3 separate regions of the Homo sapiens genome follow, and all the other regions are linked to region 2. The links come from fine-mapping of genetic effects on gene expression. A gene starts in region 2. Each other region holds a variant in brackets. All regions are shown on one strand. Distances are between the middles of the regions.

The links. PIP is the estimated chance that this variant, and not a neighbour inherited with it, causes the effect.
Region 1: its variant is fine-mapped to the expression of PRKAR1B-AS1 in whole blood (TOPMed, PIP above 0.99).
Region 3: its variant is fine-mapped to the expression of PRKAR1B-AS1 in whole blood (TOPMed, PIP 0.98).

What each region holds. Positions count from the first base shown.
Region 1 is chr7:645,953-654,123 of GRCh38, forward strand. The region is part of intron 4 of PRKAR1B (protein kinase cAMP-dependent type I regulatory subunit beta); the gene reads right to left. Among named protein-coding and RNA genes, the nearest start is that of PRKAR1B-AS1, 47 kb to the left of the region's middle. RefSeq lists an enhancer at 5,387-6,586. The variant C/T (reference allele first, on the strand shown) is at 3,563.
Region 2 is chr7:598,383-606,553 of GRCh38, forward strand. PRKAR1B-AS1 (PRKAR1B antisense RNA 1) reads left to right here and starts at 4,463. Exons shown (of 2, transcript NR_110054.1): 1 at 4,463-4,915. It overlaps PRKAR1B (protein kinase cAMP-dependent type I regulatory subunit beta), which reads right to left. Exons shown (of 11, transcript NM_001164760.2): 6 at 7,811-7,857. RefSeq lists silencers at 3,151-3,260, 4,001-4,060 and enhancers at 5,156-5,205, 5,266-5,951, 5,886-5,995, 6,266-6,625.
Region 3 is chr7:629,558-637,728 of GRCh38, forward strand. The region is part of intron 4 of PRKAR1B (protein kinase cAMP-dependent type I regulatory subunit beta); the gene reads right to left. Among named protein-coding and RNA genes, the nearest start is that of PRKAR1B-AS1, 31 kb to the left of the region's middle. The variant C/A (reference allele first, on the strand shown) is at 5,039.

The DNA.
Region 1 (8,171 bases), 48 kb after region 2:
GCAAAGTCCAAGTGTGCACCTGACCCCACGAGGCCCACAGCTGAGATTCCGGCTCCTTCGTCACCAACATGTTGCTCAGTAACCCCAACTGCACGCTATTTTTTTTTTTAAGAGGCAGAGTCTTGCTCTGCCTCCCAGGTTGAAGTGCAGTGGTGCAATCATAGCTCACTGAAACCTCAACCTCCTGGGCTCAAGCAATCCTCCTACCTCGGCCTCCCAAGTAGCTGGGACCACAGGTGCACCACCATGCTCAGCTGATTTTTGAATCTACTGTAGAGACAGGGTCTTCCTATGTTCCCCAGGCTGGTCTCAAACTCCTGGATTCAAGCGATCCTCCCGCCTTGGTCTCCCAAAGTGCTGGGATTACAGGCGTGAGCCACCGCGCCTGGCCTGAGTGCTACGTTTTAAGAGAACAATTTCAGTGATTCTAGAAGGACGGTGCATAAATTCTAAACCTGGGGAAATCCAAATTCATGAACTTTTCTGCTTCTGCAATTCCAAGTGCCAAGCAGCTCGATGGTGGGGCAGGAAGACACAGAAAATGGTTCCTCCTTCTTCTTGGCCCCGAGCTAATGACAGCTCTGGAGTAACTGAAAGAAGAGCGGAGCTCGTTTCCTAATGGGGCTGCGTGCAGAATCATGGCTATTTCCACACAATTAAACCTTGTTTCCCATAAAAACATCACTTAGAAATGGCTTCACGCTTCTCCCTCTGAACCCCTGAACTCACAATGAGATGCATGAAATCACACGATGATGAAATGGCTCAGAGTGCTCAGCATCCTACGACGGGGCCGCTACTGCACAGGTAATTAAGACTAAGCCATGTTAACCAAACTAAATTAAAACCAAGATTTAAATGCTTAAATTGGCCATCCGCCCGATCATAACAGGAAGAGGGTCCAAATCCAAAAAGGCCATTAGCTGAGCTCACACCCGGCAGGATCACAGGCGAAGGGCCCTGGGCTGAGGGCGGCAGCGGTACACCTGGCAGGGAGCCGGGGGCCCTGGCAGGGGTGACACTGCCCCCCACTCCTGGCCCAGGCTGCTCAGCTTCCACAAAAGTGAAACACCAAAGGGGCCACCCAGAGGTGGGGAAGAAAGGGGCATGGGACGCAACATGGCCGGCCAGAGCCACACAGCCGACCACCTGTCCCCTCTCTCCCACGTCCTACAGGGCGCCCAAACTCTTGTGGCCAAAACCAGCCTGCCTGCCCACCTCCTCCGGGGTTGGGGGCACCAGCAACCCCCAACCTGCGGATCAGCCTTCCTCACTCCCGTTCTCACCCTCCCATGTCAGGTCCTCAGCAAAACCCGTTGGTCTAACCAAGGGCCATCACCCAGTCTGTCCACTGTCCCGTCTCCAGCCCACCCAAGCCAGCATCACCTGTGGCTGGGACAACTCTCCTGGCCTCTCCTGCTGCCCCGTAGCCTCCTCGTCCTCTCCCATCCATGCCCCCTCTATGATCCCAACACCCCCCAGCAGCTCCCACTCCGTCCGGTCTTTAATCCCATAACCATGAATAACCACCCATTTGCTATCCAAAGAGTTTTCTTAAAACACGTACCTCCAGGCCAGGCGCGGTGGCTCATGCCTGTAATCCCAGCACTTTGGGGGGCCGAGACAAGTGGATCACAAGGTCAGGAGATCGAGACCATCCTGGCTAACACAGTGAAACCCCGTCTCTACTAAAAATACAAAAAATTAGCCGGGCGAGGTGGCAGGCGCCTGTAGTCCCAGCTACTCAGGAGGCTGAGGCAGGAGAATGGCATGAACCTGGGGGGGCAGAGCCTGCAGTGAGCCGAGATCGCACCACTGCACTCCAGCCTGGGCAACAACGAGACTTCGTCTCCAAAAAAAAAAAAAAAAAAAAAAAAAACCTCCTCGCATGTTGTTTTTCAGTTAGCACCTAAAATGCTTCATTATGGCCGGGCATGGTGGCTCACACCTGTAATCCGGTGCTTTGAGACGCTGCTTGAGGCCAGAAGTTTGCGACCAGCTCGAGCAACACATCAAGACCCCAGCTCTACAAAAAATTTAAAAATTAGCCGGGTGTGGTGGTGCGCACCTGTGGTCCCAGGTACTTGGGAGGCTGAGGTGGGAGGATTGCTTGAGGCTGGGAGGTTGAGGCTGCAGTGAGCTATGATCACACCACTGAACTCCAGCCTGGGCCACATATCGAGACTCTACCTCCAAAATTAAAAAAAAAAAAATCTTAAACTACGTACCTCTTCACTTGTTTTTAAGTTAGCATCTATAATGTTTCATTACAAGTTTAGGTAGTTGCAAAAAGGAGTAATTTCTGGCCTATTGTGAAAGTTGGTATTTTAACTGCCCTTCTCTCTTTTAAACATAGCCAATGAAATATAAACCCATAGGCAGGGCATGGTGGCTCACGTCTGTCATCCCAGCACTGTGGGAGGCTGAGGCAGGCAGATCACCTGAGGTCAGGAGTTTGAGACCAGCCTGGCCAACATGGCAAAACTCCATCTCTACAAAAATACAAAAATTAGCTGGGCATGGTGGTGCGTGCCCGTAATCCCAGCTAGTCAGGAGGCTGAGGCGGGAGAATCACTTGAACCCAGGAGGCGGAGGTTGCAGTGAGCCGAGATCACGCCACCGCACTCCAGCCTGGACAACAGAGTGAGACTCCGTCTCAAAAAAACAAACAAACAAAAAAATTAGCCAGGCGTGGTGGCAGTGCCTGTAATCCCAGCTACTCAGGAAGCTGAGGCAGAAGAGTCACTTGAACCCAGAAGGCAGAGGTTGCAGTGAGCTAAGACTGCACCATTGCACTCCAGCCTGGGTGACAAGAGTAAGACTCCATCTGAAAAAATAAATAAATAAATAAATGAAATATAAACCCATAGGGATTGGACACTCACCAAAACAAGATATCACGGAGAAAATTTAAGAACTTTTAACATTTGGCCAGGCACGGTGGCTCACACCTGTAATCCCAGCACTTTGGGAGGCCGAGGCAGGTGGATCGCCTGAGGTCAGGGGTTCAAGGCCAGCCTAGCCAACCTGGTAAAACCTGGTCTCTGCTAAAAATACAAAAATTAGCCTGGCATGGTGGCGGGTACCTGTAATCTCAGCTACTCGGGAGGCTGAGGCAGGAGCATCATTTGAATCTGGGAGGTGGAGGTTGCAGTGAGCTGAGATCGTGCCACTGCACTCCAGCCTGGGTGACAGAGTGAGACTCCGTCTCAAAATAAATAAATAAATAAAAATTTAAAAGCTTTTAACATTTAGAATGTTTCCACTGCTCCTTTTCTCCTCGAATGAGTATTTCTAGCCCATTTCCCACAGAATTTATCCCAATGTAAAAATGTTTTAATTTAAAACGTATCTTAATATTTTTTGATCTCCCTATCATGCTTCCTTGTAAAAGACGCGTTGAATGTTTGGAATTATTTTCCCTGTGAACACAAGGTTATAAGCATCATATTTTTCTTCAGGATTTCTTTTTAGTGTTAGCAGACAGTTAACTAAACGTTTATACATTAACATTTTTGGTAAGTAATTATTCAATTGAAGAAGTAAAGCTATTTTCGAAATA[C/T]ATCATTTAGTGTGTTTTATATTTACACTGATTTATATGTAGCGCCTTATTTATTTATTTATTTATTTATTTTTATTTTTTGAGACAGGGTCTTGCTCTGTTGTCCAGGCTGGATTGCAGTGACGACCCTGGGTCACTGCAGCCTCCAACTCCCAGACCCAAGCGATCCTCCCATCTCAGCCTCCTGAATAGCTGCATGAGCCACCAGGCCTGGCTAATTTTTTGTTCTTTGCAGAGATTAGTGTCTTGCTATGTTGCCCAGGCTGCTCTCAAAGTCCTGGACTGAAGCGATCCCCCCATCTCAGCTTCCTGAGTAGCTGGGACCACAGGCAAGCACCACCACACCTGGCTAATTTTCTGTTTTTTTGTAGAGCTTGAGGTCTTGCTATGCTGCCCAGGCTATGTTCACGTGATCCTCCTGCCTCAGCCTCCTGAGTAGCTGCATGAGCCACCAGGCCCAGCTAATTTTTTTTTTTTTTTTTTGTAGAGATTAGGGTCTTGCTATGCGGCCCAGGCTGGTCTCAAACTCCTATGCTCAAGTGATCCTCCTGCCTCAGCCTCCTAGAGCTCTGGGATTACAGGCATCAGCCATCATGCCCAGCCTGTAGTGCCTTGTTTATAAGAAGCATCTGGCCATGCCGTTGTGAGGTGACTGCAATCTGTGCAGGCAGGACCCAGGTGTGTGAGTGAGTGTGCCTTCTCTGATGAAGAGGACAGGTGGCCTCAATGGCAGTTCTGAGAATGCAGACCTGGGACTGTGGACCCTGTCTGAGGGACCCTAGAGGGTCTGCATCCCAAGGGTCTGTGTGCCCTGCTGGAAAACCACAGCCCCCAGAGCCACTGCCACCCCAACTCAGCCCCTCCCTCCCTCCCTGCTCACTCCACCTGATCAGTTCCAACCACGAAAGGCTCTTTCCAGCCCTCCAGCCTTCACACCGGCTGCACCTCCGAACCTCCAGCTCTGGGCTGCAAACACCCCCTCCTCTGGGAGTCATTCCTGGCTCTGGTGCCCTCACCCACTGCCTGCCTGGTGCACTTCTGGCACAGCCTCCCGCCCCTGCACACGTCCCGCCATTGCCACCCGAACAGCGTGGGGCACCTGTGGAATGGAGGCGCAATGGCGGTGGGTGGGGGCTCTGCCTGGGGACAGCCCCTTTTCTGCCTTTGACTGCGCCAACTTCAAGGACAGAGGGAACAGGCCTGAAGCTCAGAGAGGTCATGTCATTTGCAAAGGTCACGTGGCCCACAGGCAGCTCAGAGACGTCACGTCATTTGCCAAGGTCACGTGGCCAGCAGGCAGCAGGCTGGGACCGAGCCCAGAGGCGTCTGAGGCAAAGCTGCTGCCTCCCTCCCTGCCCGTGCTGGCGGATGCCTGCGGGACTCATCCTGGAGCACCCCTGGCTCACCGGCCACCGAGAGCCCTGACTCAGCTTCTTCTGTGCAGCAAAACAGTCCTAAGCATCATCACCTCTCTGGACCAGGAAGCTCAGAGGCACAGAGGCTAGTCCAAGCCATTCAAGCCCTGCTGCCTTCTGGAAGCTTCCCCGGGTTCCTGCTTTGGTGCTGAAACTCCTTCAGGTCTGGAATTTGGGGGCTGCTCAAGAGCAGGTGCCAAATCTACTCTGCCCTGTCTCTGCCTCCTACAGGCACCCAGACAGGACCCAGCATACAGCCAGGCTCCTAGGGGCCTCTGGCCCTCAAGTCCGCAGGGACCTGCCATGAGGGGTGATTGCAAGGGGCAAACCAGGCTGTGCATGTAGCATGCCTATAGGGACGTGTGCCATGGAGGAAGCATGATCCATGTTGACTGACAAAGCCAGCCTGAAAATTCATACGAGTTCCATGTTCCTCGGAAAGGACCCCGAAACACATGATGCCTTACAGAGCTCTTCCACGAGGCTTTAGCAATCTCTGACTCCCAGGGCCCTGTGTTATTTATCACACAGACTTCACGTGTCAACAAAACACTCCCACTAGGAACCTGGGAAACCCCCTGTCAGAAGACAGTTCACACCCGTGCAGCGCTAGGAACCTGGGAAACCCCCTGTCAGAAGACAGTTCACACCCACACAGTGCTAGGAACCTGGGAAACCCCCTGTCAGAAGACAGTTCACACCCACACAGCGCTAGGAACCTGGGGAAACCCCTCTCGGAACACAGTTCACACCCACACAGCGCTAGGAACCTGGGGAAACCCCTCTCGGAAGACAGTTCACACCCACACGGAGCTAGGAACCTGGGGAAACCCCTCTCGGAACACAGTTCACACCCACACAGCGCTAGGAACCTGGGGAAACCCCTCTCGGAAGACAGTTCACACCCACACGGAGCTAGGAACCTGGGGAAACCCCTCTCGGAAGACAGTTCACACCCACACAACGCTAGGAACCTGGGGAAACCCCTCTCGGAACACAGTTCACACCCACACAGCGCTAGGAACCTGGGGAAACCCCTCTCGGAAGACAGTTCACACCCACACGGAGCTAGGAACCTGGGGAAACCCCTCTCGGAACACAGTTCACACCCACACAACGCTAGGAACCTGGGGAAACCCCTCTCGGAACACAGTTCACACCCACACAGCGCTAGGAACCTGGGGAAACCCCTCTCGGAAGACAGTTCACACCCACACAGTGCTAGGAACCTGGGAAAACCCCTCTCGGAACACAGTTCACACCCGCACAGCGCTAGGAACCTGGGGAAACCCCTCTCGGAACACAGTTCACACCCACACAGCGCTAGGAACCTGGGAAAACCCCTCTCGGAAGACAGTTCACACCCACGCAGCGCTAGGAACCTGGGGAAACCCCTCTCGGAACACAGTTCACACCCACACAGAGCTAGGAACCTGGGGAAACCCCTCTCGGAAGACAGTTCACACCCGTGCAGCACTAGGAACCTGGGGAAACCCCTCTCGGAAGACAGTTCACACCCACGCAGCGCTAGGAACCTGGGGAAACCCCTCTCGGAAGACAGTTCACACCCACACAGTGCTAGGAACCTGGGGAAACCCCTCTCGGAAGAAAGTTCATACCCACGCAGTGCTAGGAACCTGGGGAAACCCCTCTTGGAAGACAGTTCACGCTCACACAGGAGACTATTTTGTAAATCTGGAGGTTCTGCCCTAGGGACTGGCAGTCCAGGCTCACCATTTGTGATGTGGGAGTGTCTCGTTTTCCCAGCTTGCTGTCCAGGGTCGCTGGAAGGGATAGAGATTTGGAGCCAGAGACAATTCCCAACCCATTCAATAAGGATTTCTTGGCTCCAATAACTGGTACTCGGGTATTTTGGTTATTTATTGTTACATAACAAACCACCTCAAACAGAGTGCCTTGACAAAAAAATTCACTCTTCCTCATGGTTCTGTGGGTTGATGGGGCAGGCCTCCTCCCTCCCATGGTGTTGGCTGGGATGGCTGATTTCCACACAGGGTGGTTGGTGGTGGCCACCGGCCTGGCACTCAGGGATGCCACTGGCCAGGAGTCCCAGCTCCACCCCCAGGAGTCCCTCCACATGACTGCTTGGGCTTCCCCACTGCATGGTGGCTGGGCGCCAAGAAGGACCCGCTCCCAGTGGACAAGTGCTTCTCCAGCCTCTCCTGGCATCACACTTGCTAATGTACCATTGGCCAAACCCAGCCACACAGCCAGGCCCAGAGCCAACGCAGAAGGAACTACACAAGTGGGGAGCCAGGCCAGTGTCTGAGGCTCTTTGGGGGCCACCAATGTCAAGTACACCATAGGGAACCTTGGGGTGGGTTGAATTCAGGAATTCAACGAGGCCTTCAAAGACCCAGGTTCTGTCCATTTCTGTACTTTGCAGCAGCAGCCTCTTCCCAACACTGCCTCCCAAGCTTCCCATTCACCCACCTCATCGTTCAGAAGGAAAGTGAGGGCTGGCTTCCAGAAGTGTAGTTATCCCCAGGGAGCAAGGTCCCTTTCCCAGAAGCCTTTAGTAAACTCTCTTTGCTTCTCATGGGACCACTGCTAAGCAAGGCCACCTGGCCACTGGACAGGGGCCTCAGGAACTGTCCTGAGCTGGTTGGCTTAGTCTTGGGTTACCTGATCCAGTCACAGTCGTTGATGGATGGACTCATCCAGAATGGGCTAAAATAAGGGCTACTCCAAAAGCTCATGGTAGATTCAATCCCCTCCCAAACCACATGGTGCTACATAGCTGGGGAGGGGTGGGAATAATGGAGAATCAACTCCAACATCCATTGCAGATGATTTCTAGGAAAGCACAACAAGAGGCCAAATGGGTTATATACACTTAATGTGGTGTTATAACTAGTGCTCATCACCCTTATTACCATGATAATTATCATCATCACTATCACCATCATCACCAACATCACCATCATCACCTTCATCACCATCACTACCATCATCACCATCACCTTCACCATCACCACCACTATCTTCATCTCCATCACCATCATCACCATCATCATCCCTTCATGATCATCATCATTGCCGTCTTCATCACCATCTCTATCTTCACCACCGTCACCATCATCATCACCATCCTTATCACTTCACAATCACCATCTTCATCACCATCACCATCTTCATCACGATCCTCACCATCCTCCTCACCATCTTCATCA
Region 2 (8,171 bases):
TAAACACCATCACCCTCCCTCCAGCACCCTCCACACTAAACACCATCACCCTCCAGCACCCTCCACACTAAATACCATCACCCTCCCTCCAGCACCCTCCACACTAAACACCATCACCCTCCAGCACCCTCCACACTAAACACCATCACCCTCCAGCACCCTCCACACTAGATACCATCACCCTCCAGCACCCTCCGCACCAAACACCATCACCCTCCACACTAAACATCATCACCCTCCCTCCAGCACCCTCCGCACTAAACACTATCACCCTCCCTCCAGCACCCTCTGCACTTCTGTTCCGATGCAGGGGCCTCTTGCTGAGCCACGAAAGCAGTGTGGACTCAGAAGATGTGAATCTGAGGTCGGGAGGGGTTTGCTTGACATGGGAGAGCCAGGGAGGCGGGTAACATCTTGTGCCCAAGGAGGTGAGTGAGCCTCTTGGCCCCTTCAGGGAATGAGGACACCACCCCCTCGAATGGCTGCCCAGGCAAGTGGCAGGACATCCCCCTGCCTTGGCAAAGAGGATGGGGGCTCTGGGAGCAGAGAAGGGTGAGTCTCCACAGAGCCAGCCCGGGACGGCCGCACCTCCCAGCTTTCTGGGATTCTGTCTCAAAGCGGGGATCCGTGGCTGCTGCCGCTGCAGGCAGGACCCAGGGAAGCTGGACCAGGACGCGCTGCCCATGAGGCCTGGAGAAGCCCAAGGCCTCCGAGAGCTCCCTCCGCAGCCTCAGAGGAAGCCATTGTGCGGGTCCCACAGACGGCCAGGGCCACACTGTGCTCGGCCGCCCGGAGGACAAAGGGGCCATCCTTCTCAGGACACTGGCCACTGTCACCACTCCCGGCGCAGTGCGGGCCCCACCCCAGCTGGTACGCAAAGGGGCTACTTCTTGTTGTGTTTCATTTTTTTGTTTTCTCTCTTTTTTTTTTTTGAGATGGAGTTTCGCTCTTGTTCCTCAGGCTGGAGTGCAATGGTGCGATCTCGGCTCACCGCAACCTCTGCCTCCCAGGTTCAAGCGATTCTCCCGCCTCAGCCTCCCGGATTACAGGCAACTGCCACCACGCCCGGCTAATTTTGTATTTTTAGTAGAGACGGGGTTTCTCCATGTTGGTCAGGCTGGTCTCAAACTCCTGACCTCAGGTGATCCACCCACCTCGGCCTCCCAAAGTGCTGGGATTACAGGCGTGAGCCACCACGCCCAGCTTCTCTTCTTTTAAAAGAAAAAACAATGGGGGTCCCCCGCGGGGCAGCATTTACACCCCACCATCACTGCAGCTTCTCTGGCGCCGAGCTCACACCTGGCTCTGCCCTGCCCCCTGCCCACCTTCACTCGCTCACCCTCTGTGTTTAGAAGTCAATGGTGGGACAGAGGTGCCAGGAGCTGGGGGAGGCACATGGGCAGGCCCCCCATTCACCTTCACTCGCTCACCCTCTGTGTTTAGAAGTCAATGGTGGGACAGGGGTGCCAGGAGCTGGGGGAGGCACACGGGCAGGCCCCCCATTCACCTTCACTCGCTCACCCTCTGTGTTTAGAAGTCAATGGTGGGACAGGGGTGCCAAGAGCTGGGGGAGGCGCACGGGCAGGCCCCCCATTCACCTTCACTCGCTCACCCTCTGTGTTTAGAAGTCAATGGTGGGACAGGGGTGCCAGGAGCTGGGGGAGGCGCATGGGCAGGGAGTGTGTAATGTGGACAGAGCTTCAGTTTAAGAAGACAAGAACATTTGGGAAATGGACAGTGGTGACGGTTGTAAAACAACGTGAATATTCTTAATGCCACCGAACTGCACAAAATGGTTAGAATGGTCAGTGTGGTGTGTCTTTTACTACAATTAAAGTAGGGCCGAGGGCAGTGGCTCATACCTGTCATCACAGCACTTTGGGAAGCCCAGGCGGGAGGATTGCTTGAAGCCAGGAGTCTGAGACCAGCCTGGGCAACACAGCAAGACCCCGTCTCTATGAAAAACTTTAAAATTAGCTGGACGTGGTGGTGCACAGTGGTAGTCCCAGCTTCTCGGGAGGATCGCTTGAGCCCAGGAGTTCAAGGCTGCAATGAGCTATGATCACGCCACCGCACTCCCAGCCTGGGCGACAGAGCGAGACCCCATCTCAAAAAATTAAAAAACGAATTTTAAAAACACACAGAACACAAGACACAACCTGAATAACATCTGATCAGATCACCAAGCTGAGGCGCCCTGCTCCGGGGTACACCCAGCTGCCTGGCGGTGCTCCCCAGCCCCCCAGAAAGAGCTCTTCCCCCAGACGTGTTGTGTGAAACCGAGGGAAGCCCGGAACGGCCAGCGTCAGTGGGGACGTCGTGATGCCTGGGACGGGGAGCAAAAAGAGGGAGTCGGGATAACGGGCCCAAAAACAATCAGGGGAAGAGTCGAGCCCCAAACAGGGCTTGGAAGGGAGCTACGTTCCCAGGCCTGCAAAGTCAGCAGCTGAGTGTCCTTTTAAATAGAAATGCTATGTTCCATGAATAAAATACATTGGAAGATATTTTTATACTTAGAAAAATGGATTATAGCTCTTGGCAACACACGGACGGCAGCAGGCACTTTCGGAGTCTCTGGAAAACCGTAATTCAAACTGAACCTGGTGCTCTTGGCATTTTGTCACCTGGCCGTCCCCCTGGACGCTGCTGGTCAGAGGGCAGCGTCCACCCTGCAGAAGTGGGTGACGTCCACCTCCAAGCTCTGCTGGCTTAAAGGGCCAGGGCCAGGTCCTTGAGGGGACGGCTTCCTGATGGGCCTCCGGCACTTGGCCAGCGCAGTTAAATACCCACGGCAAACGGCCGTCCCTTCCCGCCACGCAGAATAAAACCAGGGAAAACCGCTAGCCTCAGAAACCCACTCGGACCCTGGGTAGCCGTAGTCCTGCAGCCCCGAACCCAGGGTACATCCATCCCATTGCCCCAGGGAGGCGATTTACAGAAACCAGCAAACAACATGCAGCACCCAGGGTTCACACAGCAGCTGGATGGGGCTGCCTGGGGCTGCCATGCGGCCGTTCCCCCGGGTGCTGTAATAACAGTAATTATTATAATACATATGCCCATAACTCACCCGGGCTACCCAACATGCCACTTTTTCATTCCAGATTCCTTACTGAGCATCCTTTGATTCCCTTAAATGTGGCCTTCACCCACACGGGCCCTGCGGATTTACCCTGCATGCGAAGGGCCTCCCACATCACAGGAGGGCCCCTGCAGGCAGCTCCTGCGCCCGGCCCCGCCCGGCCCCGCCGGGCACTCCCTGACGCCCACCCCTGCCCTGGCTGGAAAATCTGAAGTTGATGGAGGTGCTTGGTGTTCGTGCACAGCCGCCTGGGACTCACGGGACAGCCCCATAAGTCACAGCCGGTTCCCGCAGGGGGCCCGGCCATCCCACGTGAGCCTGTAGCCAGGAAGTGGGCATCCACCCACGGGGCTCAGACATCCTGGCTCTGGAGGGCCGGGTCCAGCAGAGGCCTTAAAGCTGCCTTTGTGCCTGACCCGGGGGGGCTGGGGAGGGGTAGGGACGGGCAGGGGGAGGCGCAGGGACGGGCAGGGGGATGGGGAGGGGGAAGGGGAGGGATTTGCCAGGACAATATATTTGGGGAACTCCAGTTACACGAGGGTGACCTCACTCTTTCCTTTCTCAAAATTGCCTCCCAACGTCCCCGGGCCTGGCGAGAAGCCAGGCAGGACGCCACGACGCGTCGTGTCTGAGAGAAAACCGTCTCCCCTCCACTCAGGCTTCAGCCCCGACCCCACGCTAACTGGGCCAGGGCAGGGGCTGGGCTGGGAGGGGACCCAGTGAGCTCAGGGCTGGAGGAAACGGTCCCTGCTTTGAAGTGGCTCCGGCACCGGCCTCTCCCACCACCCTGTCATGTATGAAGGAGTTACAGACGGCGGCGGGGGGAGGGGGGGTCTGTCCTGCTGGAAGGACGGAGGGAAGGGAGATGCCTCACTGAGTCCAGAGGTCGAGGGGTGGGTGGGGATTCTGCGAGGATGAGGAGGAGGAGGAGGAGGTCCCGCCAAGGTCAGCCGGGGCAGCAACACCTCCCGGCCCCTTTGCCGAGGTCCTGGCCCAGGTGGGGCTCCCGGGAGCCTGGAGGCCAACGGCGGAAAGACAGGGACCTGATCCCTCCAGCAGTCCCAGCCGCCGGCCCCTCACACCCTCACCTCTCCCAGGAAGTCCTCAGCATGCTGCCGGCTGGGGCCTGGCGCTGGGGCAGGAGGGTGGCCACCCGCGCTGAAGATGAGGACAAGCCCGGGGCGTGGGTGGTGGGCGTTTCCTCTGTGGGGTGGACGAGGCTCTTGCGGTGCGTGTGTTGGGGACATGAGACGGGGCGGGGCAGCTGCCAGGCGGCCAATGGCTTCCACACCAGGGGCCAAGAGCAGAACCCCAGGAGGGTTATCTCAGTCTTCCCGGCAGCAGTGAGCTCTGTTCGTTTTTCTGAGTAATATGGAAATGGCACGGCTCAGCCACACAAGGGCCTGGGCAAAGGTCACGGCCAGCAAAGAACACAGCCTGGGTCCTCTGAGTCCCGAGTCCACGCGATCCTGACCCGTCCACCACCCTCCTCGAGACACGACAAGTTAGGCGGGAACATAACCTGGGAGCCCCATGTCGGTTTCAGGCTCCACAAGGGATCTCTGGGTAAAGGGTTTGTCTCTTCCACATCTGTTCATTTAGGAGAAGCAAAGAACATGGAAAGCAGAATTCCTGGGGGTGGCCTCAACCCCAAGCCCTGCCGATGCAAACCGGCACCTTGAAGATGCCTTTGGAATTTAACTGGAAGATTTGAATGACATGGGCAGACACAGAAGAGGGAGAAGCATTCCACAGGGGAGGAAAGGCCTCAGTGGGGACCTATGGAGCTCCCAGGCCCACCGCAGGGAGGCAGGTCCTCGGTCATCTGCGGAGGTCAGTATCTATCAAAGCCCAGCCGCAGATAGATGAGCTGGGCCTGGCGGGGTCTTGTAGGATGTGTAGGAGTTTGTGAGGCAGAGCAGGAATGAAAGCAGAGGGGACAGGAGGGGCAGAACCAGAGTCAGGACATTCATTGGCTAATTTCCTGTTCTTGGTCCCTCTCCCCCATTAAGCCACAACCTCCCCCACACCAGAGCAGGCACCAGGTCCTCCTCGTCACAAGTGCCAGGCATAAAGCAGGCACTCAATAAACATCCAGGAAGGAGACGGCAGGGGAGGAGGCGACATGATGACTCCAGGACCCAGAGTGGAGGTGATGGGGGAGGAGGTGACACCAGGACCCAGAGTGGAGAGGGCAGGGGAGGAGGTGACACGGTGACACCAGGACCCAGAGTGGAGGGGATGGGGGAGGAGGTGACACCAGGATCCAGAGTGGAGAGGGTGGGGGAGGAGGTGACACCAGGACCCAGAGTGGAGGGGATGGGGGAGGAGGTGACACCAGGACCCAGAGTGGAGAGGGCGGGGGAGGAGGTGACATGGTGACACCAGGACCCAGAATGGACAGGGCGGGGGAGGAGGTGACACGGTGACACCAGGACCCAGAGTGTGAACTAGAAGAGGGGCTATAAGTAGTAGCATGAGATTTGGGGCTGGGATAAAGCGGTGGGTCCAGTCAGGAAGCTGCCCATCCCATACCTCCCGCAGAGGTGGCTCTGCCTTCAGCACTGCTGACCACTGGGCAGGCCTGGGCTGCCAGGGTCTCTCTGGGATCAGCCCTGCCCCATCTGCTGGGGGCTGAGCCCCATTCCCTGCAGCCCCCCATCAGGCCCTGGTGTCTGGATACCAGGCACAACGGGGCCACCTCCTGGGACGGGCCCAGGCCCCAAGACGATGCCCGGCTGGGATGCTGGCCGCATCCTCCTCTGTCTTCTCTATTTCCTGGGCTAGGCTTTTTTTAAACTCGAAGCAAAGCCAGCAGGAGATGACTCTGCGGCCTGGCAGCTGAGCCCAGGGTTGACCCGCCAGTGCCGCCCTCCAGCCTTCCCCCTCCACACTTCCTCTGAGGCCGGGCAGTACCCGGGACCTTTGGCACCTGCCTCAGTTTCCATCTCTAGGGGAGACAGGAGCACCCCCACTCCCTGACACAAAGGTCTGCCCCAGAGGCCCTGTCTAGGGGCCCAGCCCGTGGGTTCCGGCTCAGGACAGAGCACACCAGGGAGAAGAGAAACTGGCTCTTTCTCCGCCTGCGCGGGCCAGGCCCGAGGCACGTGCCCCCCACGGGGAGGCGGGACCCCTGAGTCATTTCCTGTGCTATCAGCTCCGGAAGCAGAGTGGGCCTGCTCAGGTTCCCAGAAACACAGCGCGATGGGGGACAGACTCCGCGGCTGCCACGGAAACAAATGAGTAAATGCCCTCCCCAGAATAGCGTGGCCGGGACAGAGGCACAGCCACCGGAGGCCAGACCTCGAAATAGCTCGTGCTGGGCAGCCGGGGGTGGCGTTGCCTGCACGGAAGAGTGCGGAGGCCACCTCCTGGGGCAGGTGGACAAGGAGAAGGGCAGGCGGACAAGGAGAAGGGCAGGCAGGCATCCCAGACCCAGAGAAGACTCAGCCAGCCTGGGAAGCAGTGACCGTCTCGGGTAGCAGAATCCCCAAAGCGTCCTGCACTGTGGGGGCTTCCAGTCTGTGTGCAGAAAGGCCGTAAAGAGACGGTCTCATGAGATGTCATCACCACGAGCCGCAGAGGGTCCTACGAGGGAGGCGTGGGACATGTCTGCTGATGCCCACTGGGAAGTGACATTTAGCAGAGAGCAGAAGGAGAAGCAGGAGCTAACGGGGTTCCCGGCAGAGCAGGGGACACACACCAAGGCCCTGGGGCCGCCAGTGCAGGCGGATTCCAGGAACCGAGGGAGGATGATGTCACTGAGGTCCTTCCCGCTGACTCCGCAGGGGCTCGGGCCTGATTCAAAGGGAAACAAACTCCTAGCGGGCGTTTTCCCAGAGGCTGCACCATCAGCTCCGCACCAGCAAGGTCAGGCTGCCGTGCGGGGGGCGGCCTGCAGAACAGGAGCCCAGCGGGGGATGAGGGGGCCTCAAAGCCTTCACACCAGAGCACCCAGGCTCTAAACCGGACGGCAGAAGAGATGGGAGCCAGAGGCTCTGGGCAAGACTGGGCTGCGGGGCCAGGGGTGATGTCATGTGCCGTGTGTATGTGTTTATTTACTTAGTTTTATACATATATGTATCTATTTTATACATACACATACACATGGCCTGGCCATCGGGCACGAGACGGGGTCTCCAGCGGAGGGGAAGCTTCTCCTTCCAAAACAGTGGGAGCATCTCATAAAAGATGCTCTTGAGACAAGCGTGGGAAGATGACACAGTGAGACCCGACTCACGGCTGGGACGTTCCAAGCTGGGAGCCAAACGCAGGCGCAAAAGGCAGCCGTTGTTTGATCGTGAAGTCGTCGGTCCTAGGGGGTCTCTAAGCACGTCGCTCTCCCACCCACTTTGAGATGTTAACATCCCATGTGGTGGGTGAGCCTGGTGTATTCATCGGCCTCGGATCTGGAGACGGCGCTGGGTCAAACAGAACCGCCCTGGCCAGCCCCAGCAGTCGCAGCCCGGGGGCAAGCGGAAGACAGCGGCCCTGGAAAACCTGAGGCCGCTGCCGGCACCTGCCAGCATCACCCTTGTTTCCCTCTGCACTTTCTCATATTCCCATATTCTCTTCCAAGAGATAGCAGTTGCATTTCTGGATTAAAACACTAGGAATACGGCACTCAGCGCAGTGTTTGTTGGGGGCCTGGTGCTGCCTGGAGGGCAAGTCTTCACACCGGACATGCAAAGACGCGCTATTTTCCAAAGACAAGTTAGCGACACTCACATCCACTTCCCCTTGATCAACGACATAGAAGTTGTCTCCTTCATTCCCTGTAACAAAAGAAGAAAGTCAACAGATACAAAGTACATCCAGACATACAAGTTACAGTTTCTCTTGCAAACGACTTTCGCAACACTGTTGCAGAGACCCTCGAAGCAACATCCTGGGTGCTACCAATTCTTTTTAATGACAAGATTATACAAACATTGAGATAACTTGTTAAAGAGCCTGTTCTTAAGTTTCATTAGTGAACTTTCTCTAAACAATGAGAGGTGTTTTTCTTTTTGTTTGTTTTTTGTTTTTTTTGAGACGGAGTCAGGCTCTCGGCTCACTGCAACCTCCACCTCCCAGGTTCAAGCGATTC
Region 3 (8,171 bases), 31 kb after region 2:
CCTCCCAGGGCGCCACCACCCCAGGGCTGGAAAACGCTGCAGGAGCGGGGCCACGGCCTCCGAAGGCACCACCACCCCAAGGCTGGAAAACGCTGCAGGAGCGGGGCCACGGCCTCCGAGGGCGCCACCACCCCAAGGCTGGAAAACGCTGCAGGAGCGGGGCCACGGCCTCCGAGGGCGCCACCACCCCAGGGCTGGAAAACGCTGCAGGAGCGGGGCCACGGCCTCCGAGGGCGTCACCACCCCAGGGCTGGAAAACGCTGCAGGAGCGGGGCCACGGCCTCCCAGGGCGCCACCACCCCAGGGCTGGAAAACGCTGCAGGAGCAGGGCCACGGCCTCCCAGGGCGCCACCACCCCAGGGCTGGAAAACGCTGCAGGAGCGGGGCCACGGCCTCCCAGGGCGCCACCACCCCAGGGCTGGAAAACGCTGCAGGAGCGGGGCCACGGCCTCCCAGGGCGCCACCACCCCAGGGCTGGAAAACGCTGCAGGAGCGGGACCACGGCCTCCCAGGGCTCTGTGGGCTGCAATACTTGTTTTCTTTCCACGGCTGCTGCTTCAAAGCACAGGCCGGGCCTTGGAAGTGGAGCGCAGTGGAAGAGCCAGGCACACCCCCACCTCCCCCTTCCAGGACCAGGGCACTTGAAAGGTGTGGAGGGGGCTGGGCCAGGCCAGGCGAAGGTGACCGTGGCTCCTAGCAGGTGAGCAGCTGAGATGTACCTGAGGGCTCGGCCAGCCCCATCGGAGAGGCAAACCCCCAGGCAGGTGGTCCTGTTGTCAAAACTGGCCGGCCGGGAGCTGGAAAACAGGCCCAAACTGCGCCTGTGCTGGCAGGTGGCAGGCAGGCAGCGGGCAGCGGTTGGGGTCCTGGCTGGGGGTGCAAGGTCAGCCTGCATCTGAGGCCTGTGGGTACCCAGGGGGTGGCCTATCCCATTGCCCTGGGGGTCCCACGGCTCCCTGTACAAACTCAGATGCACTTGATTTTGTTATTATTGTTTTAATTTGGTCTGAACCTTTGTTCTAAGTGAAGAGACATAGCTTTCCAAAGGCCATACGGGTGAGGCTGGCCCCGGGGGGATCAAATGCCTCCCTCCTGGCCTCACTGCCAGGCTCATGTTAAAGACGCCCAGGGGATGTGCCATAGGCACTGCATCACCAAAGCTGGAGGCTCCCTCAGGACCAGGGAGACAGACAGGGATTGCAAACTCAGCCACCCCCAGGCCCAGTCAGGTGCAGGGATGGGGAGCACACCCCCCCCACCATCTCCAGGGAGCACCATCACCCAGGTGGAGCAGGGCCCACACGTGTGACCTTCCAGCTTTCAGATAAGATGGAAACTCAGAAGCTCCCTGACCATCGCCTGGTTTCAACAGAGGGCTTGCAGCTGATTCGGATTTTTTTTTTTTTTTTTTTAAAGACAGAGTCTTGCTCTGTCACCCAGGCTGGAGTGCAGTGGCACAATCTTGGCTCACTGCAACCTCCACCTCCTGGTTCAAGCGATTTTCCTGCCTCAGCCTCCCGAGTAACTGGGATTACAGGCACCCTCACCAATCCCGGGTAATTTTTGTATTTTTAGTAGAGACAAGGTTTCACCATGTTGGCCAAGCTGGTCTCAAACTCCTGACCTCAAGTGATCCGCCCACCTTGAACTCCCAAAGTGTTGGGATGACAGGCGTGAGCCGCCGTGCCAGCTTGATTCAAACTGGTTTTCAAGAGCAGTTGTTCAAACAGCAAGATGGAAGTTGACAGTGGCCAGGTGTGGACAGCGGCCCACCTCTCGCCATGTCATGCCATAGACCTTACAGATACGGCACCCTCAGGCCCAGACAGGGGTGGTCGCCGGCCCAAAGCCACTCAGCACCTAACCTGGGATGACTCAGGAAGGAAAACAGGCAGAAGCCGGTCACCTTGGCCAGGCCAGTTCCAGGGTCAGCCAGCACCCAGACAGAAGCCAGTCTCACAGCCCAGCACACACAGCCCGAGGGGGAGAAAACACGGCCCCACAAAGGTGCTGCGTGGAAAAGCCGGGGCACGGTGTGCAGGCCCACCACGCAAACCCAGCCCACTGTCCTCCGAGCACACTGGGGATCCTGTGAGACTCCAAAAGAAGGCGGATGCCAGACGCGGTGCCTCATGCCTGTCATCCCCGCACTTTGGGAGTCCGAGGAGAGGTTCGCTTGAGCCCAGGAGTTCCAGACCAGCCTGGCCAACATAGAGAGACCCCCATCTCTAAAAAAAAAAAAATTGGAAATTAGCCAGGCATGATGCCATGCACCTGTAGTCCCAGCTACTCGGGAGGCTGAGGTGGGAGGATTGCTTGAGCCCAGGAGATTGAGGCTGCATAGAGCTGTGATGGCACCACTGCCCTCCAGCCTGAGCGACACAGCAAGACCCTGTCTCAAAAAAAAAAGCAGCGGGAGGAGAGCACCTTGTGTCCCGATCTAGAAAAATCTCCAAGAGAAACCGTAAAGAGAAAAAGGCAACTGGCACAGCTGTGTGTAGCCCCCAGGAAGACCGAGCTCACGTGTGAGCCAGCGTCTCCGTGTGACCCTCCTGCGCACACGCAACAGAGCCTGGGGGGAGCAGGTGCTGGCCAAGGTCTGTTATCTCTCTCTGCCTTGTCTGTGTGAACCCTGTGTCTCTGTTGCCTCATTAAAAATCATTCCTTTTAAACACTGTGAAATTCTGCCAGACGCCCAGCAGCTCGGCCCCTGCAGAAGGGCGCACATCTTCTCAACCTCAAGGGGCGTGGAGACCACCCACCTCGCCGAAGCCGGCACCGGCTTCGCAGAGACCCGGACTCGAGACGAATCCTCCTGCTGCTGTCTCTCCCATCCACTGCCCCCCAACACAGCCCCCCGAGCCGCAGGCTCCACCGGGGGGGTCTTCCCACTGCCCCTGGCTCAGCTCAGGACGGCCACTGCGTCTGAAGACCACCAGTGTCCCCGCTGCCGGGTCATGGCACTGGTACTCCCAGGAGCCATTCTCTTCTGTGGGGATTCCCTTGTTCCGAGCACACTGGGTGGGGCTGCCTTGGTACAGATGGATCCAGGCCTTCAGGACACTGCGGCCCTCATGATGCTGCTGCGTGTCTGCTCTGCAGGGCACAGGGCGAGGCTGAGCTCACTCCGGTTCATCCTCACACAGAAATGCCACGGAGGCTGCACTCTCTACCGGATGTTCCTGAGCCCCCGGCACTGCCAGCCACACGTGATACAAGCTACAGAGCCATCAGGAGGATTCCGTGGGCCACACCCGCAACAGGTCTGGGACTCTACGGGGCTGTGTGCCCAGCCACAGCCTCAAGGAGCCCCCGACGGCCGGCACCCGTCAGCCCTCCTGAGCCTGGGGCCACACAGTGCCTGTCCGGGAAGCAGACACCAGGTCCCGGCCGGCTCCGGCAAGCCTCCACTTTCTCCTCTAAATCACGGGCAGAGGGAAGCCAGGCGCGCGGGTCGTAGTGAGATCAGCTAGATGGAGTCATGTCGTGCCGACGCCATGCGTGTGAATTCATTCTCTGCTCCCACCACTGCTCCGACTCTGGAATACGCTCAGAAACAAACCCTTCACGCTGTCAAAATCCTCCCCCAGATATCGCTATAAACAGCAAAGACGTGATCTCCAGGACATGATGTCAAATGAAAAACACCAAGTGGAGAAAAGTGTGTCTCGTGTGCAAACATCTATCTAACACAGGCAGGAGGGGCCGTGACTCCATGTGCGTATTTGCTTATTTAAACCACACATAGGCAAATCGACACAGAAAATATTAAGATAGTCACCCACAGGTGAAAGGAAGGGGCTCTGTGCACAGGAGACGGGACCCAGGAAGGCGGCAAGACTTCTGTAATATCCCACGACTTGGGAGCCATATTAGTATTTCATGTAATTATACAAACCAAATTCAGATTTAAAAAGTAATACAGGCTGGGCATGGTGGCTTACACCTGTAGTCCCAACATTTTGGGAGGCCGAGGCGGGAGGATCACTTCAGGCCAGGAGTTCAAGACCAGCCGGGGCAATACAGCAAGACCCCATCTCTACAAAAAATTTCAAAATTAGCTGGGTGTGGTGGTGCATGCCTGTGGTCCTGATTTTATTGAGCTCAGACTCTGTGCTTAATAAGGCAGCTGAATGCTGGGACGCAGGTTGGGCCCGCCTGGCCTCCCAGGTTCCTGAGGTGATTTAAAGGAGCTGCCCACCTTGGAAAAAGTCGGGGAGGGGAGCAGCGAGGACACAGCTCCTGTTCACGGCCTTCCCAGCAAAAGTAAGGAGGCTGTGTGTAATCACGGGAAACAGGCAGACCCAAGACCTTGTAAACCACCTGCCTGGGCTCCTCAGGGATTTGGACCAGGCACAGTGGCTCACACCTGTAATCGCAGCACTTTGGGAGACTGAGGCAGGGGAACTGCTTGAGCCCAGGAGTTTGGGCAACATAATGAGACCCCATCTGTACAAGAAAAAATAAATAAATTTTGTTTTTTTAAAGGGAGTCTAGTTCTGCCTCCCAGGCTGCAGTGCAATGGTGTGATCTCAGCTCACTGCAACCTCTGCCTCCCAGGTTCACGCCATTCTCCTGCCTCAGCCTCCCCAGTAGCTAGGATTACAGGCGCCTGCCACCATGCCCGGCTAATTTTTGTATTTTTAGTAGAGACGGGGTTTCAAATGTGTTGGCCAGGCTGGTCTCGAACTCCTGACCTTGTGATCCGCCCGCCTCAGCCTCCCAAAGTGCTGGGATTACAGGCGTGAGCCACTGCACCCGGCCCAAAAAAAAACATTTTTCAACTTAGCCAGGTGCAGTGGCTCAGCTACTCGGGAGGCTAAGGCGGGAGGATCACTTGAGCCCAGCAGGTTGGGGATGCAGTGAGCTGTGATCTCATGACTGCACTCCAGCCTGGGCAACAGAGCAAGACCCTGTCTCCAAAAAAAAAGAACTGGGACAGAGTTTGAATTTGGGTGGGGGTCAGCTCAGCTCAGGGTGCTGCGTGCAGGGTGAGCGCTGTGCCTGTGATGATTTTCCTGCTTGTTCTTAGGAGACA[C/A]CCAGTGAAGCATTTAAGGCGTGGGGTCCTGGTGTCTGCAACTTACTGTTTTTTTTTTTTTTAAGGTGGAGTCTCGCTCTTTCACCCAGGCTAGAGTGCAATGGAGCGATCTTGGCTCACTGCAACCCCTGCCTTCAGGGTTCCAGTGATTCCCCTGCCTCAGCCTCCCGAGTAGCTGGGATTACAGGCACCCGCCACCATGTCTGGCTAATTTTTGTGTTTTTAGTAGAGTCGGGGTTTCACCACGTTGGCCAGGCTGGTTTCGAACTCCTGACCTCAAGCGATCCGCCCACCTCAGCCTCCCAAAGTGCTGGGATCACAGGTGTGAGCCACCGCACCCAGCCTGCAACTTACTCTCAAATGATCCAAATAATAAAAAGAGTAAAAATAACAGTATGCGAATGTAGAACACAGAACTGATGAAGCAAATGCAGCACAAATACGTCCCAAAATGCTGAGTGGCAAAGGGTACACAGGGCTTCATGATACTCTCCTTGCAACGTTTCTGTGTGAACTATTTTCAAGGTAAAATTTAAAACAATAAATAAAATTAGGAGATTTCACCAAAAAACCGGACTTCCAGCTTCTCTGGAAAAATCAAGATCTGACACCCTGGGACCCACATTCCACAGGCTGGAAACCAGCTGAGCAGGGGTCCCTGTGGGCCCCAAGGCCCAGCCCTCCCCTGGCAGCTTCCACATCTCAGGACCAGACTGGCCCTGAATGTTCCGGATCTGGGCCAGATGTCATGTTCGCGCCCAGGCAGACTGTGGCATCGCTGCTCTGAAAACAGGGGTCAGAGCAGCAGGCCTGGGCCACAGAGCCTCAGAAGGATCGGAGTGGACGGCAACCTGCCTGCACCCCCCTGGGGCTCAGGGAGCGTCCCCAACACTGACTCCACAGTCCTCTCCTGGCAGACGCACAGCTGGGACCCGAGGGCCCCTTGGCAGCCCTAGGCCTCTCCCCAGGGCACTGGAACCCAGGCCTGGAGCCCGGAAGGCTCGGGACTCCTCCGCTGCCTCCCAGGCCCTCCCAGACTATCCTGTGAACAGCTTAGGAAAAAGGGCTTCTCCCTCCATGATGGCTGCAGGACGGTCTTTGAGCAGGGGAGAGAAGGCACAGCGAGGGAGACGGGGAAGCCTCAGGTTTTCTGGAGCTCAGTGCAAAGGTAAGGAGGTGAATGAGCTTTGGAGGCAGGAGTTGGTCCAAATCACAGCTCCGACACTTACTAGCTGGATGATTTCAGCAGGCCACTTAATCGCCAGGCCTCAGTTTCCCCATCTGTGAAACAGAGCTACGGACAGCAGGTTCACGAAGCATTGTAAAAGTACCAGCACCGCGCCCACACATCCTCCACCGGCCGCGCCCTCACGTCCTCCACCGGCCGCGCCCTCACGTCCTCCACCGGCCGCGCCCTCACGTCCTCCACCGGCCGCGCCCACACGTCCTCCACCGGCCGCGCCCACACGTCCTCCACCGGCCGCGCCCTCACGTCCTCCACCGGCCGCGCCCTCACGTCCTCCACCGGCCGCGCCCACACGTCCTCCACCGGCCGCGCCCTCACGTCCTCCACCGGCCGCGCCCACACGTCCTCCACCGGCCGCGCCCTCACGTCCTCCACCGGCCGCGCCCACACGTCCTCCACCGGCCGCGCCCTCACGTCCTCCACCGGCCGCGCCCTCACGTCCTCCACCGGCCGCGCCCTCACGTCCTCCACCGGCCGCGCCCACACGTCCTCCACCGGCCGCGCCCACACGTCCTCCACCGGCCGCGCCCACACGTCCTCCACCGGCCGCGCCCTCACGTCCTCCACCGGCCGCGCCCACACGTCCTCCACCGGCCGCGCCCTCACGTCCTCCACCGGACTGTGCCCACTGTGCCCACCGGATGCTGGGGCTCCTTCACCAGGGGTGGGGGGTTTCCTGCCAGCCCTGCCAATGAGGGCTGGTCCTGGGGCCCCTCCTGCCCCACCCAGAATGGTCCTTTCTGACAGCCAATGCTCTGCCTCTCTCAACTGCTGGAACACAGTGACCCCAGGTGGCCAGCACCTCCCCAGCCCGTGGCCACTGTGAGGACAGCAGCTCAGACAGAAGCATTTCCACCCTCACAGAGGCTGTGCTGTAGAAGCCTGCTGGGGAGGGGGCCGGCGGGACCTGACGGGTCGGGTCCATCTCTCTGTCTCTGCACCTGCACGCCCCTCCCTCCTGGGTGAGGAATGGGTATCACACGCCAAACTCCCTGCTATCAAGAGCAGCTCCCAGGTGTCTGCAACTTCCTCAACAACTGTGACCCCGCAAACCACGGCGAGTGGGAAAGAACGGCCGTGAGGGAAGGGGCCAGGTGCTGAAGGTGGGGGGTGGGGAGTGCCGGGACAGGCCAAGCTCCAGGACCAGTCAGAAACCTTGAAGGAGGTGAGGTGTGGTGGTTCACACCTAATCCCAGCACTTTGGGAGGCTAAGGCGGGTGGACGGTTTGAGCTCAGGACTTTGAGACCAGCCTGGGCCACACCGCGAAACCCCATCTCTACAAAAACATACAAAAATTAGCCGGGCGTGGTGGTGCACACCTGTAGTCCCGGCTCCTCGGGAGGCTGAGGTGGGAGGATCGCTTGAGCTTCGGAGGCAGAGGTCTAGCCTACATGGTGAAATCCCGTCTCTAACTAAAAATACAAAAATTAGCTGGGCATGGTGGCGCACCTGTAATCCCAGCTACTTGGGAGGCTGAGGCGGGAGAATCGCTTGAACCAGGGAGGTGGAGATTGCAATGAGCCGAGATTGCGCCACTGCACTCCAGCCTGGGTGAAGGAGTAAGACTCTGTCTCAAAAAAACAAACAAACAAATCATGTTTATTAAAATGCTTTATACAGTCTTTAAACCTAAGGAAAAAATAAAATGTTCATTTCCTGATATTTGTAAATCTTCAGTGCACCTTTAAAAGAATCAAGAGCAAATAATGGGCCGGGTGCGGTGGCTCACGCCTGTGATCCCAGCACTTTGGGAGGCCGAGGTGGGTGGATCACCTGAGGTCAGGAGATCGAGACCAGCCTGGCCAACATAGTGAAACTCCGTCTCTACTAAAAATACAAAAAATTAGCCGGGTGTGGTGGCAGGTGCCTGTAATCCCAGCTACTGA